4 linked regions of the Homo sapiens genome follow. The protein of the gene in region 1 purifies or fractionates together with the protein of each later gene. This does not show direct contact. Each region holds a gene or a part of one and is shown on either strand. Other genes may lie near its edges.

Evidence for each region.
Region 2: the proteins of NAE1 (region 1) and PCYT2 fractionate together in Homo sapiens (co-fractionation; one large-scale study listed by BioGRID). This does not show direct contact.
Region 3: the proteins of NAE1 (region 1) and MSN fractionate together in Homo sapiens (co-fractionation; one large-scale study listed by BioGRID). This does not show direct contact.
Region 4: the proteins of NAE1 (region 1) and PPP1R2 fractionate together in Homo sapiens (co-fractionation; one large-scale study listed by BioGRID). This does not show direct contact.

What each region holds. Positions count from the first base shown.
Region 1 is NC_000016.10:66,813,977-66,817,476, forward strand, and holds part of NAE1 (NEDD8-activating enzyme E1 regulatory subunit), read right to left. Parts: coding exon 3,449-3,500; intron 3,053-3,448; coding exon 2,989-3,052; intron 2,697-2,988; coding exon 2,605-2,696; intron 1-2,604. UniProt on the Homo sapiens protein: Regulatory subunit of the dimeric UBA3-NAE1 E1 enzyme. E1 activates NEDD8 by first adenylating its C-terminal glycine residue with ATP, thereafter linking this residue to the side chain of the catalytic cysteine, yielding a NEDD8-UBA3 thioester and free AMP.
Region 2 is NC_000017.11:81,904,900-81,908,399, forward strand, and holds part of PCYT2 (ethanolamine-phosphate cytidylyltransferase), read right to left. Parts: intron 2,959-3,500; coding exon 2,874-2,958; intron 2,700-2,873; coding exon 2,655-2,699; intron 2,359-2,654; coding exon of another isoform or gene 2,305-2,358; intron 2,000-2,304; coding exon 1,861-1,999; intron 1,648-1,860; coding exon 1,565-1,647; intron 1,279-1,564; coding exon 1,201-1,278; intron 837-1,200; coding exon 771-836; intron 549-770; coding exon 483-548; intron 256-482; coding exon 167-255; intron 46-166; coding exon 1-45. UniProt on the Homo sapiens protein: Ethanolamine-phosphate cytidylyltransferase that catalyzes the second step in the synthesis of phosphatidylethanolamine (PE) from ethanolamine via the CDP-ethanolamine pathway.
Region 3 is NC_000023.11:65,716,154-65,719,653, forward strand, and holds part of MSN (moesin), read left to right. Parts: intron 1-664; coding exon 665-748; intron 749-3,500. UniProt on the Homo sapiens protein: Ezrin-radixin-moesin (ERM) family protein that connects the actin cytoskeleton to the plasma membrane and thereby regulates the structure and function of specific domains of the cell cortex.
Region 4 is NC_000003.12:195,516,627-195,519,325, forward strand, and holds part of PPP1R2 (protein phosphatase inhibitor 2), read right to left. Parts: intron 2,560-2,699; coding exon 2,392-2,559; intron 317-2,391; coding exon 270-316; 3' UTR 1-269. UniProt on the Homo sapiens protein: Inhibitor of protein-phosphatase 1.

The DNA of each region.
Region 1 (3,500 bases):
TATAATTTTATTTAGAATCAGTACCATATGAAGATTTGATGGGGAAAGAATGGAAGAAAGACCTCTCCGGCCCACTGTTGCTACCATTTAATACCTATTCTCTTATACCATAAATGGGGTAAAGAAGGGGCCCCAGTAAATTATTTTATATAGTTACATCTGAAGACAAAACAGATTATAGACTCGCAGTATATCATGATTTTCCATCTTGTCAAAAATCTGAAACCCTTGCACCCTAATTAGTGACCGTTGAGACAACCACTCTGAAAAAAACTAAAACCATAAAGTAATTTTATTGCTAGCAAGATCTTCATACGTTAATCAAGAGTATAAAGCTGAGCACAATGGCTCATATCTATAATCCCAGCATTCAGGAGGCCAAGGTGAGAGGGTCATTTGAGCCCAGGAGTTTGAGACCAACCTGAACAAAACAGGAAGACCCCGTCTATAGAAAACATAAAAGTAAATTAGCTGCGCGTGGTGGCACGTGCCTGTGGTCCCAGCTACTTGGGAGGCTGAGGTGGGGGGATCACTTGAGCCCAGGAGGTCAAGGCTGCAGTGAGCAGTGATTGTGTCACTGCATTCTACCCTGGGCACCAATGTGAGACCCTGTCTCAAAAAAAAAAAAAAAAATACACACACACACACACACAAATCATAGGCTTGGATTCTACTGATGGGTGGAAAAAAGAAATGTCTCAGTGGGACCTCCTAACTGCTCTCTCTGCTTCCACTCCCAGTCCCCTCAATTGTGTTCTCCTCATGAAAGCCAGAATGGTCTTTTAGAATACAAAGCAGCTCAATCCACTTCCCTGACTGAAATGCTTAAATAGCCTGCAAGGCCTTTATGATCTGGCCCTTTCTGCCTCTCCAAACTCAAATCCTTCCTACCACTTTTCCCCCTTTTACACTTCACTCCAATCACACTGACTTGCTTACTGATGCTTGAACAAAAGTCAAGCTTCATCCCACTTCTGGGCCTTTGCACATGTGCTCCCTCCAACTGAAAAGCTCTTCCACCAGACCTCTGCGTGTCACTTCACTCAGGCTTCTGCTTAAATGTCTTTTGGAAAGTCTCCCTGGCTCCCTATGTACAATTGTCTCTCAACCCCGGATTCCCTTGTCCCCAGCATGCTCTCTGACCCTTTGTTCTGCTGTAATTTTGTTCACAGCACCTGGTGCATTTTTATCTGTTTATTTAGCTTACTGCCCCCCAACTATTAGAATCTTTTCTTTTCAACTGTGGTTTTATATTCAGTGAAATACAGAGATTTCAAATGTCCAATTCAATGCATTTTGATAACTATATATACATATTTTTAACCATAACCCCAATTAAAACAGAAAATGTTCATCACCCCAGAAAAGTGATTCACAAAGCACATTTATTTTTTGGACACAGGGTCTCATATCATTGCCCAGGCTGCAGTGCAGTGGCACAATCATGGCTCACTGCAGCCTCAACCTCCCAGGCTCAAGCGATCCTCCCACTACCTTAGGCTCCAGAGTAGCTGAGACTACAGGTGCATGCCACCACACCCATCTAATTTTTAAATTTTTTGTAGAGACAAGATCTCCCTACGTTGTCCAGGCTGGTCTTGAACTGGGCTCAAGCAATCTTTCTGCCCTGGCCTCCCAAAGTGTTGGGATTACAGGTGTGAGCCACCACACCTGGCCAGCAAACACTTTTTTTTTTTTTTTTGAGACAGAGTCTCGCTCTTGTTGCCCAGGCTGGAGTACACTGATGAGATCTCAGCTCACTGCAATCTCCACCTCCCAGGTTCAAGCGGTTCTCCTGCCTCAGCCTCCCAAGCAGCTGGGATTACAGGTGCCCACCACCATGCCCAGCTAATTTTTTGTATTTTTAATAGAGATGGGGTTTCACCATGTTGGCCAGGCTCGTCTTGGACTCCTGACTTCATGTGATCTGCCCTCCTCGGCCTCCCAAAAGTGTTGGGATTACAGGTGTGAGCCACCGCGCCTGGCCCCAGCCAGCACACTTTTAATCACTCAGCAACACTGCCTTGTTGTCTCTAAAAAGTTGGTAATAATATCTTACGTGCCTTCCTAACTTGAAAGGCAGCATATTTGCTGTTTTAAGTTACAAGAAAATTCTAACTTAAACTACCAGGTGTTATTCCAAAGCTCCCCAAAAACTTCAATGGTCAGACCTCAACAACTAAGCCATAACAAAACCAAAGGCATCTGAGGCGGAGTCTTACTCTGTTGCCCAGGCTGGAGTGCAGTGGTGTAATCTTGGCTCACTATAACCTCTGCCTCCTGGGTTCAAGTGATTCTCCTGCCTCAGCCTCCCGAATAGCTGGGATTACAGGTATGTTCACCATGCCCAGCTAATTTTTGTATTTTTAGTAGAGACGCGGTTTCACTATGTTGGCCAGGCTGGTCTCGAACTCCTGACCTCAGGTGATCCACCCGCCTCAGCCTCCCAAAGTGCTGGGATGAGCCAGCATGCCCGGCCCTGTATTTATTTCTAACTATACATTTAGAAAATATTAACTTAAATCATTATAGTCAACCATTTAATAGCCAAGGACTCTAGAAAACATCTTGTTCATGTGAATCCCTCAGCAACTCTTTCATTACCTGAGTTGTATTTAGTGCTGTGTTCACATTTTTAATAGCTTCTTCAAAATTCTCTTCATCTTCTGGAGCCCCATTTTCATTTTTTAGAATTCCTATTGTAATGGGAAATTGTTAGCAAACAGCCCTTTTCTTTTCACTCTTCTGTTCCCCCATTATAAAAATAACCTTGTCAGATCCTGCAGAATATTAAATCTTAAGAAGAAATACGGCTTATCATTAGTCCTTAAAACTATACAAGGCGTGGCTTCTTAACTTCTCCAGAAGGAAAATAAAAGCTCATGATGCTATCATCTGACAAAGGTGTTAACAGAAATCCAATAAGTACCTGCCTCTAGCAATTTGCTTTTCAAGCTTTATACAGTATTTAATCATATCCCATATTACCTTGTCTAATCAAATCTCTGAAGTCCTCTTTTTCTTTATACGTTTTAGGTATTCGTCCATTTGTCTAAATTGGTTAAAAATTTTAAAAATCTAGTTATTAAAATTCAAAATACAGAAATTGAAAGTCTAAAGTGTCCCCCATTCTCTACATAAGATTTCATCAACAAATATATTTCTCTGTGAAATCAGAGGCTCACTTGATAGAAAACAGACACTGTGACCATTTATCTACATTCATTCCCCCTGCCAGTTTCATAATGACATTTATTGAATTTCATTTTAATTAAAATTATCAGGATCAAAAGAGGAACTGCTAGATTTAAATTTAAAAGCATCCATTTGCCCTACCATACAACTCCATAAGGAAAAAAAATTAATCTCCCATTCCCCATCAAGGAAATCCTTTGTAAGAAACTGAAAATACAGTTGCATATGAAATTTTTTTTAAAAAAGGACATACTTCACTATACCACTGTGCTAAATATTTAGCTATGATCACAATCCATGGAGTA
Region 2 (3,500 bases), on another chromosome or scaffold:
AGCTCCTTGGCTTCCTTCTTCTGGTTTCGCGCCTCATACTCCAACCTGAGAGGGCAGGGTAAGTCTAGCAGAGAGCGCCCATGAGGCGGCTCCGAGGGGGAGGGCACGGTAAGTCTAGCGGAGAGCGCCCATGAGGCGGCTCCGAGGTGCCCCCACCCAACTGCACCTGTTGGTGATGATCCGCTGGACGATGAGGTCTGTGGTGAGGTTGCTGCCACTGTCAATCTGACGGAAGATGCCCCTTCTCTTGGGCTCCTGGGGGTCCAGAGAGGAGGAGCGGGATGAAGGTCCCTGCTGACCTCCCCAAGACCCATCTGATGCCCTGCCCCAGAGGGAGACCAGCGCCCAGGGTCCCATGGGAGTGGTGCAGTCGGAGCAGCTGCGCCACCATGCCCGTTTCCCAGGCAGGCACAGTGAGTCATTAAATGGCTGGGAGGTGCCAATGGCAACCCCTGTGCCCAGCAAGGGCCAGCATGACCCACCTGGTATGGGTCGGAGCCATCCCTGTCAGGGATAATTTCTGTCTTGCCGTGACACACCAGGTCCACCTGGAGAAGGAGTGGGGTCAGGAGCCCTCCCCGGGGAGGCAGCGGCCGTCGCCACCCACAGCCCAGCACAGGCCCCGGGGGTTGGGAGAGCTGACCCTGCCCTTTCCTCAGCCCAGGTACCTCCTGGGCCCCGCCTAGGAGCCCACAGCCAGCCTGCATTCCCAGCCCATGCAGGAACAGAGGTGAACAGAGGGAACGAGGTGAGCCCATGCGGAGCCTCACCTTGAAGTGACTTAGGAGCTCTGCTGTGACCGCGTACGGGGCTCCAATCACCACTTCTGACACGTACTGTGGGGACAGTGGGGGCAGAAAGACTTGCTCGGTCCCTGCTACTGGTAAGCCAGGGCCACAGGGTGGTGAGAGACGGCTCAGACATGGGGCGGGGCTGCCAGTGAGTAGCAGGGATGGGCTGGGCAGGCTGGGGACCCCTGGGGCTCCTCCATGAGACAAGAAGGAACAGCATCTGGAGACCTGACCACCCCTCCTCATGCCTCAACAAACAGGTATGGGCAGGTGCCACAGAACTCGGGGTGCTGGGTGCAGCTCTGCCAGTGACCCAAGCCCCCCTGCCCTGGCTCAGGGAGGCCCTTAGTAGGGGGGATGTTGTGGGAATGTCTCCCCATCCTTGGGCTGGCTCCTGGCCCCCACTCACCCGGCAGGCCAGCACGCTCAGAGTCCGTTCATGCAGATTCATGATGGGGTAGTTCTTCCCCTTGTAGTGATTGACCTCCTGCGGCCAGAGTGCGGCTAGCTCAGCCCGGAGACTTTTTGGGGGGACAGGGTGTGCCCCTCCCGGCTGTCCCTCATGGGAAGAAGTCGGGGAGGTTGCTCGCCCTTGTGGGGATGCCCCAGACAGGACAGCCCTGGACCCCAGAAGCCTACGATCACCCCCCAGGGTCTCCTGTGACTTCACCTGGGGCCCCTTCCCAGAGACCACCTGCACCTAACAGCAACGCTTAGGGCCCCTCGAGGGCCCATCAGCTGCCCAGGGGCCCAGGGAGCAAGAAGGCAGTGACCTGGTCAAAGTGTAAGCCCGCGATGATGTAGGGCCTCTCTGCCAGCCTGTGCACCTTCTCCAGGAAGTCCACATGCCCGATGTCTGCACCCAGGTTAAGAAGCAGTCGGGATGGGGATGACAGGGAGCAGCTCCCTGACAGCTCATGCCCAAGGGCCTCCCCGCCATCCTCCCTGCTGACAGCTGCTCCCCTGCAAACCAGCCAGCCCAGTCTGGGGGCCCCAAGGAGTCAAGTGAGGCCCCCGGGTCCCACCCCATGTGGCACATGTAGGGGAGCAGCAGAGGCCCAGAGGATACGGAACAGGTCGAAGGCACCAGCCACATAGATGACTGTCTCCCCTGGCTGGGGCTCCTTCCCAGAAGCAAACTGGATGATCTTCTGAGATGTCTGCAGGAACTGGGATACCCCGGTCCAGGGGTTCCGCCCACCAGGGCACTGCAAGCCAAGAGAGGGAGCAGGTTGGCGGGGGAGGCCTCCCAGGTGCTGCCCTCACCAGGTCACCAAACCCTCAGCTGTCACCTGCCAGCAATCCCATTTCCAGCCAGTCATCTCGGGCAGGGGACACACTGCCAGGCCAGGTGGCAGGTGGGACTGTGGCGCCACCCCACAACCACAGCAGGCACCGCAGCAGACACCACTTCAGCCCAGCAAGCGACCACCAGGAGGAGGCAAGGAGCCCTGTGGCAGGTGCACACAGCCCTTGGGAGGGACCTGGTACCCTGAGACCACTGTCTGGTCACCTGGGAGCAGCCTTCTGAGGAAAGTATGTCCCCGGCGGGTATCGGGTGAGGGGGCTACAATGGGAGAGAGGGCCAGGCCACTTGGTTAGAGGCCACCTGTCCACAGGCAAATCCTTGCTCCTCCAAGCAGTGGCTGCCGTGACCGGCCAGCCGGTGCCACCACCCGCCTGCCCTCCCTCCCAGCATCCACCAGTGAGCCAAACCTGGCAGTCAGTGCCTGGTCAGTGCCAGGGACAGAGGGAGGAGGGTGAGGCTCTGGGCTGGCCTTTCCCCAAGGGATGGCTGGGACAGGTGGCCGGGGGAGCCCCCTGCAGCTGCGTGCTCAGCTCTCCCTGCACAGCCGCACTCACCTTGCCAAAACTGTCTGCATACTCCCGGTACTCAGAGGACATCTCCTGCACAGAAGGTCAGAGCAGGGCTGAGGGGCCTGCCCTCCCGGCGTGGCCACCCCAGAACCGGCTGGGGATGGGGAGCAGTGGGCAGGAGGACCCTGAGAGGGCAGGGAGGTGCCCCTCCTTTCCCCTGGAGACCTCGACCCAGGGGCCTCGGGGATTCCGCCGCCGACTCACCTGGCTGCTGTGATGGGCTTTGGTTACCAGCAGCATGCGGCCCACGAGGTCTGTGGTGGACACCCCTTGCGTGCGCTTGCATTCTCTGGGGGACACAGTGGGAGTGGGGTCTCATCCTGGGACACTCGCAAGGCTCTGCCTCCTGCTACCACCACTAGGGACACTAGCAGCCCTGCTGTGGCAGAACCCACGGCTGCCCCAAAGACTGAGGGTCCCCTTCCTGTGCAAGGCCATAACAGAAAACCTGGGTTGGGAACATGGGGAAGGCCTCCACGCTTTTATTGACTGAAGGGAGTGGCAGGAGCACAGAAAAGGACCCTTGCTGGGGCCCAGGTGTGCAATGCCAGGGAGAGGATGGGCACTGGGGTAGCAGCTCTGCTTCCTGCCTCCCTCACACCCACGTCCTGCCCGCTGAGCATCTGCAGCTGAGTGAATTCTCAGCTGCAGCATCTCATGCGGGAGCCACTGGCCTCATGTCCCTGACGTCTGGTAATTCAGATATAGTGCCAGCTCCCCAGCAGTGCCAGCCACGTCCCCCGAGCTCAACAGCTGCCACCTCACAAAGCTGTGCCTTTGGAGCCCTGGGGCCATGGGTCTGCAGCACCAAATGGCAAGGGCCTCCAGGCC
Region 3 (3,500 bases), on another chromosome or scaffold:
GGTAGATCAGAGGTGAGAAGAGAACCCTGTGAGATGAAGCTGTCTAGTATAGATGGAAAGGCCTTCCTGGAAGAAGTACAGTTATCATTTGCCTGCTCTTAGTTGTAGGCTGATCTGCATTCTTTTTTAAAAATTTTTTTGAGACAAAGTCTCGCTCTGTTGCCCAGGTTGGAGTGCAGTGGTGTGATCTCGGCTCACTGCAACCTCTACCTTCTGGGTTCCAGTGATTCTCATACCCCAGCCTCCCAAGTAGCTTGAACTACAGGTGTGCACCACCATGCCCGGATAATTTTTGTATTTTTAGTAGAGATGGGGTTTTGCCATGTTACCCAGGCTGGTCTCGAACTCCTGGCCTCAAGCAATCCACCCACCTCGGCCTCCCAAAGTGCTGGGATTACAGGCATGAGGCATTGCACCCGGCCTTCATGCTTGTCTGTTCTTTGGTAAGTATTGCTCTGTGGCTGTGTTGTTTGTCTTCAATAAGCTGCTTGGGAGCAGGGGTTGTGTTTGGGTCAATATTCTCCCTTCATCCCCATCAGTATCTAAGTTGCCCAGGCTCTTAGCATCCTAACTCCTTCCTCTGTGGTTGAGCAGAGACACTTGTCTCAGGCTCTGTTGAACACAGAGCCAGATGACTAACCTGCTTCCTTTGATCTCATCCTAGATCAGTGTGCGTGTGACCACCATGGATGCAGAGCTGGAGTTTGCCATCCAGCCCAACACCACCGGGAAGCAGCTATTTGACCAGGTAAGGCGGAGACTCCTTAGCCTCCTCTCCTTCTCTGAATAGCTTCCACCACAATGCCAACAATCCATGACTTTTGCCTCTTGTCAAAGAATCTCTCTTCCTGTTCACTCCAAGATAGATCAAAATGAAGGCTGATTCCAGACTTAATATGAAAGGAGGCAAAGTTAAACTTTGGCAGCCTGCACCCTATGGTCCTGATTAATTTTATCTTTGGTCCTGAATAAGGGAGAAAAGAAAATGGTGTATATTCTATGCTAGATGCTTTAAAAATCTTAGCATATGGAGCCTTCCTTTTAACTCTGAAACATGTAAGTGATGTCTTCTCCATTTTAATGATGAGGCTCAGAAGTTAAATAACTTAATTGCACCCAAATGATATTTGGCTGGGATTTGCACTCCACATTGTTGCCACTGCACCACACTGCCTCTGTCCCATGTTTTTGCTTCCTAGTAGAAGGAAACTAACTTACTCTCCCTGAGGTAGTAAGCTCTATGCACATTTCTCTCAAAAGAATGTTGGGACTTAGGACAACATGGGAGTTGATGGATGCAGTAGGAGGCTGCTTCATCTCCTACAGGCATGCCATGAAGATAATTGCTTACTCGCCATAGTGAAGAGGTCATTCCCATCTCCAACCCAAGGGGTGTCCCTTCATTGTGAATCATTATTGTCAGAAAGGATGTACTGTATACTATAATAAACAGATGGCAGCTACAGACATTTTTAGCATTCAAGGGAATGTGCCGTCTGTGGCCAGACTTCTAGGAGCAAAAATGAGGCTCCCATTTCCAGAGGCTGGGACCTCACCAGACAGGCCATTATCCTATTTCTCCACCAGACTCCGATGAAGTGGAGGTCTGAGTTATTGTCCAGGATGTTAGGCTGCATATCACCCTGATGGATTCTCCAGGCCCTCTTGCTTCCCTTTCTTCCTTGCTCTCTGTGTCCTTCTACCATATGAGAACTTCCCCAGGGTTGGAGAGAGGAAGAAAAAAAGAAGGAGGTAGTGTTCAAATAAGCTAATTCTATTCCTGTGAATACTTCTGACTGGTGAGAGAAAAGACAAGAGTAGAATGGAGACAGGGGTAGGAGAGGGCTAGAAATTTGAGGACAGCTTGGGTACACCTTCTGAGTTCTTATTACATAGAGTGGGAAAATTATTGTCTGTGGCTAATACAGATGAGAGTTAACATTTATCCAGGACTCAGTGTATGCTAAGTATTATGATAAGCATTTGACTATCACAAAGCTCTGTGAGTGCATGAATTAGTATGGGCATGTTTTACAGATGAGGACACAAAATCCTCATTTTCCTAGTTAGACCCTGGGAAAATTATTGAACTCTCTGGGTTGGTATCTTCATCCCCTCCCCCCGAGAAATATCTAATACTTACCTCACAGGATTTTTGTGAGTGTGTTATGTTTTGTATCTTACCTGTTACTCAAAAATCTGATTATAGTGGCATATAAGGATGTCCAATCCAAAAAGATAAATTCGAAATAGGTGAGAAAGATAAGAAAACACAAATAGGAAAGAAAGTGTTAGCTGGAAGAAAGCATCCAGCATATGGTAGAGAAGTAATAAATGATAGCTCCCTTTCCAATACCATTGTGCTTCTTGTATTATTAATTGAGCTGGAGTTGACGTGATGTGGTGGCTCATGTCTGTAATCCTAACACTGAGATGGGAGGATTGCTTGAGCCCAGGGGCTCGAGACCAGCCTGGGTAACACAGCGAGACCCTGTCTCTACAAAAAATTTAAAAATTAGCATGGCATGGTGGTGCACACCTATAGTCCCAGCTACTCAGGAGATTGTGCCAGGAGGGTTGCTCAAGCCCAGGAGTTCAAGGTTACAGTGAGCTATGATCACGCCACTGTACTCCAGCCTAGGTGACAGAGCAAGACTCTGTCTCTAAAAAAAAAAAAAAAAAGTAAAGAAAAATAATCTAGAATTGGGAGAATTGGGAGATGGGCTTAATGATCCTCAGAATATCTAACTTCAGATTTAGGTGGAACTTACTTCTCTGGAGTTTGTTTTGTGTTTGTTTTACTTTGAATGGCAAAGTGTAATCATTGATACTTAATTGGTGAAAATACAAATTAGTCTGAGGAATATTTAAATACAAGTTTACTACAATTAAAGTGATGTGCTTACATTCACATAGCTCACAAGTGATTATGGTGCTAGTCTGGAATGACTAAATGCATTCTAATTATAATTGTGCTTTGCATTCTCTCTTCACATGGAGGTTATATTGGAGAACTTTTAAAGGGACAGCCTAGTGAAGTCAAAAGGGCCTGGATAGAAAGTCATGAATCTTGGGCTGTAGGGTTGGCTCTATCACTAATTCGCTGTGATACAAACGTTTCCCTTATTTGGGCCTCAGTTTCTCATCTGTACAATGCCTAACTTGTTTCTCAAATCTGGTTATCTCTCAGAAAATTTATCTCTGGCATTTATTTGTGCATTCCATCTCTCTTTCTCTCCCATTTCTGTTCCTAGTATTGGGATTTCAGACAATCCTTTTCTGTAAAAAGGAGAGAAATGCCTCACCTGAGTATGATCAGCTGCTGGCATATGTGAGGAGGTAGGGCTAGCTGGCAGGGGGATCATCTCTTCCTTGACAGGCTTTTTACTGTCTCTAAGACAAAAGGGAGGAAGTGTCCATAGAACACATAGGCTTTTGGGCCCTTTGCTTTAGACAGCAGTATCATTCTGGGTAGCAGCTATTAGAGAGGGAAGCGGTTA
Region 4 (2,699 bases), on another chromosome or scaffold:
ATTAACCAGTGTTTTTACAAAAGTAATGCAGTTTTGGACTGATGATATTACACTGTATTTGTGGTAAAGTACTAGGCACAAGAATATATATATCGATTAGGCATTTTCAGTCTAATCAGTCTCTAAGTTTATCATTTAATTCTTGGCAATATATAATAACTGGTATGCATTTTGGTACTTAAGTCATGAATTGTGAAGAACAAGAAGCAACGTACTATAGTCACAGGGTTTACATCTAACAAACAATTGCAGTGTTGAACAAATCTCGTCTATGAACTTCGTAATTTGTTTTGCTGTTGGTCACTTGGAGTAGATCCTGCAAAGATAAAAGAAAAAGTCAACATAATTTGTTATATGTTGTCAACCCTGGCTAAAGTTCCCTTCTATTAGCATGCATGACAAGCAAATATAAAAATTTTAAAAACAAATAAGGTATATTTCATGTAGGCTGATTTAGACTGAAATTGAAGAATCTATACACTCCCCTAAATAGTCTAAAGAACAGAAGTGTCTACTTGCTGATAAAACAAACAGGTTTCAGATTGAACATTTCTGTAAGTCACAGGTGGAAAGGTAAGAGTTTACGACAACTCCAATATCCAGAGCTATAAAAAGATACATATTTATTACCTGAAAGCTATAAAATATCACCTAAGAGTCCAAACATGTCATTTTCTCCAATGAATTGTGTGAATGGGGGAGGAAAGGGGGAAGGGAGGAGACTGGCACTGTCCCAAAACTAATGGGTTCTATAGAACTTAGAGATCTGAAAAGCTGGTAAAATGTTAAGGGCCCAAAAAGGGTAGGGGGTAAATAAGGTACTTATTTCCCTAAGTCTTATCCTATTCTTGTGGGTTTTATAATGCTAAGCAGGATATACTCCTTTGCAAGGTGTACTTCATCTCCAGTGAAGAAAAATCAGGCACTGACCTAATACAAAATTTTAATCCTCCATTAAACTTAAACAAAAAATATATTTATGTACTAAATATGTGAAATGTAATATCTTATAAGCAGAGACGGACAAAATGCCATAGTTATTTTTCAAAAGAAATGGCGTTAAAACAAACAAACAAAAAACGCTGCCTCTATAACAAAAAATAAAATAAAAATAAAAATGGATAATAAAAACATGCCACAGCTACTATGTAAGATGAAGTTTGCTCAAGTTAAATATAAGTTAAACAGACTATGGGATATATAATGGAAATGAAAGGCTATATGAAATAGACTAAAAGGTTGAAGCATATTACGGAATAACAAAAAGTACTGTAATCCTGACACTATGAGACAGCAACTCATCAGGCTGTATCATAGAATTATTCATATTTAATACTATGCTTACCAAAATGGTAATACAATAATTATTTAATTTCCTAAGACTTAACCATTCTGGGCACCACAAATAACATCAGTTACGCCTCCACTGAAAAGTATGAAGTTTGTAAGTACAAGGAGTAGGTGGTGGGCACAAAAAATCTCCATTAGTGATGCAGAAGATTCACTTCATTAAATACCAGAGTAACAGTTCATAAAAAATAAATAAAACCTATTTCCTATGACAGATCAGGAGTTGCTAGGCTGCAGGGGCTGGGTGTCTAAGACTTAAAAAAAAAATAAAAACAAAAACAGTTAAATAACTTGTCAATCCAACAGTCAAAAGAATCCGTATTGGAAAGATATGACATACTTTGTATCTAACGGGATGTAAAACCAAATCTTCCATACTAAAAACATGTTTCAGGCTGGGCGCGGTGGCTCATGCCTGTAATCCCAGCACTTTGGGAGGCCGAGGCGGGCGGATCACAAGGTCAGGAGATTGGGACCATCCTGGCTAACATGGTGAAACCCCATCTCTACTAAAAATACAAAAAATCAGCCAGGCGTGGTGGCAGGCGCCTGTAATCCCAGCTACTCGGGAGGCTGAGGCAGGAGAATGGCGGGAACCCAGGAGGCGGAGCTTGCAGTGAGCCGAGATCACGCCACTGCACTCCAGCCTGGGTGACAGAGCGAGACTCTGTCTCAAAAAAAAAAAAAAAGTTTCATTTAAAAATTTTAAATTTTAGATCGTTATGACAAATACAACATGACCTAAAATATTCAAAACAAAATATAGCTTAATATGAAGACAAACATCCTTGCCTAAAGGCAAGTAAACCATAAGAAAGCCATATAATAAAACATATGGTCTAAAATCAAATCAACTCTAGGTATAAAAACTTTATTATTCTGAAATTGGCCATGCGGGTTAAAACTTTAGAAACATTTGGTATAATAAAGCGAATCTCAGCAAAATTTTCTGTTTTTTCACAAGTTTAAAGCAAAATAAAGTACATTATCTTAGGCATAGACCATTACAAAAGTCTCAGTGACATTTTCCAAACATCTAACCTTGATTTGATTCTTCCGTATTCATGCTTTCTCCATCTGCAGTCTCTAACATTTCTTCATCTTCATCATCATCATGTAGGTCTTTTGAAATTAATTGTCTGGCTAGTTTGATATTGAGTCCTTCATTGTAGTGAAGCTTCCTTTTCATTTCAAATTGTCGCTTTTTTTCTATAAGATGCAAAATGTAAACTTAGGAAGTTTGAGCTCAAGGATTGGCCCATGCCTGTTTTATAAATAAAATTTTATTGAAACAGTGATGCTCATTTGTTTTTGTCATGCTTAAGGCTGCTTTTGTGTTCAATGGCAGA